2 linked regions of the Homo sapiens genome follow. The protein of the gene in region 1 purifies or fractionates together with the protein of each later gene. This does not show direct contact. Each region holds a gene or a part of one and is shown on either strand. Other genes may lie near its edges.

The links. The genes of interacting proteins can lie anywhere in the genome.
Region 2: the proteins of ZCWPW1 (region 1) and PLXDC2 purify together in Homo sapiens (affinity purification with mass spectrometry; one large-scale study listed by BioGRID and IntAct). This does not show direct contact.

What each region holds. Positions count from the first base shown.
Region 1 is NC_000007.14:100,402,538-100,404,703, forward strand, and holds part of ZCWPW1 (zinc finger CW-type PWWP domain protein 1), read right to left. Parts: intron 1,708-2,166; coding exon 1,641-1,707; intron 1,249-1,640; coding exon 1,157-1,248; intron 40-1,156; coding exon 1-39. UniProt on the Homo sapiens protein: Dual histone methylation reader specific for PRDM9-catalyzed histone marks (H3K4me3 and H3K36me3). Facilitates the repair of PRDM9-induced meiotic double-strand breaks (DSBs). Essential for male fertility and spermatogenesis.
Region 2 is NC_000010.11:20,214,932-20,218,431, reverse strand, and holds part of PLXDC2 (plexin domain-containing protein 2 isoform 1 precursor), read right to left. Parts: intron 1,007-3,500; coding exon 856-1,006; intron 1-855. UniProt on the Homo sapiens protein: May play a role in tumor angiogenesis.

The DNA of each region.
Region 1 (2,166 bases):
CTGTATTTTGACTCGCTTACGAATGGGCAAAATTGGGTCCTGAGGATGGGAGAGAAAGTTTAAAAAAATGATAAATCAAGGCCCCTAACTGTTTTTAATAGAGAAGGATGCTACAGAATGACAGGTGGGCTTTGGGGAATCAAAGTAGCTTCTGTGAGCCTGATATTGTTTAAATTTCTGGCAACACAGAGAAAAATGTATGGTCACTTTCCCAGTCTGTTGGTATTCATCAATGCAAGGCTTTAGGCATAAAAGAAGGAAATAAAGCTAGGCCACAAGTATGATAAAAATTGCTAAATTAAAAATTAGAAGAAAAAGTGAAAATATATATTTCCTATACCTGGAAAAGAGATGCTAAGAAAACAAGTGAATGAAAATCCTCCATGTCCATGTAGGGGAGAAAGGAGTGGAAAGAAACAACTGGTATTCTCTGAATTGCTCCCTGAGGAGTCAAATACATACAGTAGGAACTGAGATTATACTCAAGAAAGAAGTTCCTAGAGATGTGGGAAATTAGAGAATAAAGAGGAAAGAAGAGACTTAGAAACCCCCAAATATCTGACAACTGGGGCTCCCTCAAGGCAGGGTCAGGATAGCTCCTTAGTAAATCTAAGTCCATTCTAACGAGATCCTTACAGAAAGCTCCTGAAAGGAAACCCCAAGATCCTTGTCTAAACAATTTTTTTTTTTTTTTTTGAGAGGGAGTTTCGCTCTGTTGCCCAGGCTGGAGTGCAGTGGCGCGATCTTGCCTCACTGCAAGTTCTGCCTCCCAGGTTCAAGCGATTCTCCTGCCTCAGCCTCCCGAGTAGCTGGGACTATAGGTGCCCACCACCATGCCCGGATAATTTTTTGTATTTTTAGTAGAGATGGGGTTTCACTGTGTTAGCCAGGATGGTCTCGATCTCCTGACCTCGTGATCCGCTTCCCTCGGCCTCCCAAAGTGCTGGGATTACAGGCGTGAGCCACCACACCCAGCCATCTAAACAATTTTTAAAGCTAATGTTGGCCAGGTGTGGTGGCTCATGCCTGTAATCCCAGCACTTTGGAAGGCTGAGGTGGGAGGATTGCCTAAGTCCAGGAGTTTGAGACCAGCCTGGGCAACCTGGTGAAACTCCATCTCTATAAAAATAAAAACTGAAATTAAAGCTAATCTTACTGTTTTCTCTCCTTCCTCCTTTTCCAACTCTTCCTCTTTCTCCTTTTTCTCTAAGCAGGATCCTGGGCTGTTCAAACCAGAGAGCTGTAAGTCTAGAACAGGAAAAGGAAGGAAAGGCTAAATCATTCATACCATAAAATAGTGAGTTAATGAAGCTGATCACAAAGAATCTGTCTTCTAACTGTGCCTTTTGTGTACAAGTGGTATTTTCTCCATAAAATGTGATCCCAGATTTCCACCCTTTTCAAAGTCCATCACTATTCAATACACCCTCCCTCCCCATTCTGTTTCTCCCATTCCTCTCTCCACTCATCTGCCCATCCATCCTAGATACTGGGTCAATGACATTCACAAGAGCCTCCTATTAAAGAATCCAGAATTAGCCTGATGATAGAGAATATAAAATAAAGAAAAACATGGGTTGCTGCCCTCATGAAGGAATCCCTCCCATCCTTCTCCAGTCCTCAACCTCCATTTATCCTACCTTTTCTTTCCCCATTACTGTTAGATCCGTTGAATCGGCTCCAGAAACCAAACAAGTTAACCCGTTCCTAAGGGAACCAAGAAACAAAAGCATCATCCACTACCCTTTCAGGCGCAGCTTTTGCCTTCTGTCTTCTGGAATTTAGTTATGATGAAATTCTGATTCATTTTCCATACCAAAATTATCATTATTATTATTTTTGAGACAGGGTCTTGCTCTGTCACCCAGGCTGGAGTGCAGTGGTACAATCTTTACTCACTGCAACCTCCCCATCCCTGGCTCAAATGATCCTCCTGCCTTAGCCTCCCAAGTATGTGGGACTGCAGGCATGCACCACCATGCCTGGCTAATTTTGTATTTTTTGCAGAGATGGGGTTTTGCCGTGTTGCCTAGGCTGGTCTTGAACTCCTGGACTCAATGGATACACCTGCCTTGGCCTCCCAAAGTGCTAGGATTACAGGCGTGAACCCCCTGCCCAGCCCTCATTTTCCATACTATTTTCACTTGAAATTACACATTAGGCTTA
Region 2 (3,500 bases), on another chromosome or scaffold:
TTTTAAAAGCAGTAAAATGCACTTAGCAGCTGCTTTCCACCCCACTTTATTCCAGTTCACCTTATAATATCAAATTAAATTCCAATTAAAAGTTCCATATTTAATTTTTTATTCAAGCCAAAGAAAGTGAGGCTTATAACAATAAACAAGTAAGACCCATTTATCCCCCTCAAACCTGATTCGTGGCCAGTCTTATGTTTCTGCCCTCTCCCTCCTGGTGGTATCATTCAGAATAGAAAATTATCGTATGTTGGGTAATACACTTTCTTCCTCCTGAGCTGTGCCCAAGCATTAACACTCTCTAGTATTTCTGCCTACCTTAGAAGAGGAAATAGTTGTTTTCAAGGACAATTTCTATGACACATACAGTGTTTCTGTATAGGTTATAGACCAATATATTTTATTGACTGCATTCTGGAAAACATTAGAATTATATATTAATAGAATTATTTATTGTTCAGAATCCAGAATCAACGGACATTTTATATGCATTTTGCCTTTCTAACCTGTGATTGTGAAGTTGGATTTGCTTAGTACAAAATTTAGCCACACAGGAAGAAATCTGTATTTCTTTTCTAGGAAGGAGAGGACAAGAAGCCAGAATCAATGGTAAAAGCTATGTCTTAAAAAAAGGCACAGTGCATTAAAAGAATCCCAGCATTTACTTTTAGTTCATAATAATTTTGTCTTTTTCCCCTTTGGAAATCCCTTAGAAATCCAGTTTGCCAAAGAATAACTTTAGAGAGACCTAGAGAGTAGGAGCTATTCCAGTACATGTCAACACAGTGATTTTTCCTTCCTTCAGGGAAAAAAAAAAAAAAAAAAAAAAAAAAAAGCAAACTATCTCTTGGGTACCTTCTGTAGGGAGGCTGGTGGGAAACTGAGAAGTCACTGCTCTTCTGGTGGTAGTTAGGACCCTGAACTGGGTGGTTGTCGCTCCTACGGTTGTGGTGGTTCGAGAAGAAGTTTCCACTGGTTCTGTATTCTCACACATCTTCTCTTTTGACTAGTAAGAGAAAAGAAAAGGAAAACAAATGGAGTGATCACAAATCTATTTTTAGAACTTACATCAAAGAAGCTGGGCTGTAAAGCACAAAAGCCTCTCATATCAAGACAAGGAATAAATTACTTTTGTACAAGACTATATTAATGATTTTGCTAATTTATGAAGTTTATAAAATAGGAAAGAGAAAAAGATGGATGGAACAAGGCATTTCCCTTTTTAGATATTTAGGTTTCATCATTTACTGCTGTTAAGCTTTCATATTACTGTTTACCTTGCCCTAAATTTTACATTGGTATATTTATAAAAGACACACTGTCAAAAGGGAAAATTTATACTAGAAGAAAAACAGGTGCATAAAGATAAGGTTTAAAACATACTCAGGTTTGTGGAGAAAAAGTGCATTCCTTTCGTATCAAACTGACAATGCTAAATCCGAAATATTTGCTAACTTCCCCATACTACTTCATTGTTTCAAAAATCATCTGTCACAAGTTGAATGAATGTCTAAAATTTTGTTTTCCTTTATGAAATATTCAAAACCACATAAGCAAAGGATTGAACAGAACTCTTGTAATCACTCAGCCTATTTTCCTCCTTAGCAGAGCTATATTGAAAACATCAGGAAATGAGACATAGTGAATTTTTTATTTTTAATTTGTGAAAACAAATCCTACAACCTTCACTGGTAACAACCTCCAACATCCAAACTTTTATAGCTTAGAAGTTGGTGTTTCTATCCACCTTTTGTGCCGCAGTGGACTCCCTCTCTCAGGTGGGCCTTGAGTAGAAAATAACTATTCTGGACATGAGTGGTTCTCATCCCACATTTTAAAATTATTGTTAAATAAATATCATTCTTAAACTTCTCTCATCATTAGTGGAGCGCTAGGTGCCTTTCCCCTTGTTAATGCAGACTTCCTGAGACAGCCTCCTTTTCATTAATAGGATATGAAACAGGTTTATTCTCCACTTCAAGTCTAAACATACTAGGGTCTCATTTAATTCCCCAAATTCCAGTTCCTGCACCTCTGAGCCCCATTAATCTAATTATTTCCTTTCAGATACCACTTTAGTTGTCATCCCCACACCCTGGACTATATCTGTAGTGGAAAATGTTTTAGATCTGAAATCATAAGCTCAGTTATCCTTTTTCCATCTATCCCTGTACCTGCGAACTCCAATTCTTCTTATTCTTTGACTACTTAGAAAGCCTAAGAAAATGATTTTGTTTTTAAGTTTCTTTTTCCCCCATTACTTCAACCACTCATTTCAGTAGCTTCAAGCATCTTGCTCTATTTTTTTATTTTTTTTTTTTTTTAGTTTTTTTTTCTACAACACCTTTAAAGAAAAGATCTGCCTTTTCCCTGCCTGCTCCAAAGCCAGGCACAGCTGGAGAATAATCACACAGACCCGCCATGGGGGCTCCACAAACATCTCCTGCATCCTTAGCAGGGCCGTGCATACCACTTGGCAGCATTGCTGTGTCTTGCTAATCACCTCTCCCATTATGCTCAGTATGAATTTCAAGCTCTCTCCACTTTACCTAAAACTGCAATCCCATCATGATTCTCCCGGTTTTACTCCTTGGGTTCACCTTCCATTTCCTTGATAAATAGGCATGATCAGCAAGATTTCTTTAAATTTCTTAGTGAATCAGCATACTTACTTGACTCTGGGCTGACCTATTCTTTCCTTCTGTGATAATGGATGGGGACCTTTCCTTATAGCCATCCTTTCAACCTATTTCTACCTATGTCCTAGCTCAACTCAGCCCACCTTCACAGGTATTGTGAATTTGCTTAGGTGATCATAGTCCTTTCTCTACAATATTTGCCACCCCTAATTCTCTGCTGGCTTCTTATCAACAACACTTAAAGGTACACAAGCATGCCTAATCTTATTTTGCAAACCCAAATTCCAGTTTGCAAAGGGAGGCAGTCCCAGAAGAGGGACTGCCTCCCTCTTCTCCCCAATGCATCCTGACATTATACTGCTTTCCCTCCATTCATACGCAGTCATATTTCCAGAGAGATCAGTCTGCCTTGGTCTTCTCAGACTCCCAGCTTTCCCTTTTATGACAATCTTGCTCTTACCTAATCCAACTGAGTTGAAATTTCTCGTACCAATGTTTCTAAATATCTCCTTAGCTAAATATCCAACATCTTCCATGGTGTCCTACTGACACCTCATCAGCCTATGGTGCAGATGTCCACTCCCCTGTCTTGGTTTCTGTGACACACCCTCTCCTCAATGTTCTGACACCTCCCTCACAACTCCATCTCAATTTCCTTTTATTTATGTCAATTCCTTAAGTGTTGGGGTGGTTCTTATGGATCATTCTTGCTCTGTCACTTCATTCTATGCATTATCTTTTGCAATCTCTTCTACACCCATGACTGCAATGAACATCTTTATGTTGATTATTCATAAATCTATATTTCCAGTCCACATTCCTCTTTTGGATTTCAGGCCCAAAAAGTCATCTATTGACCAG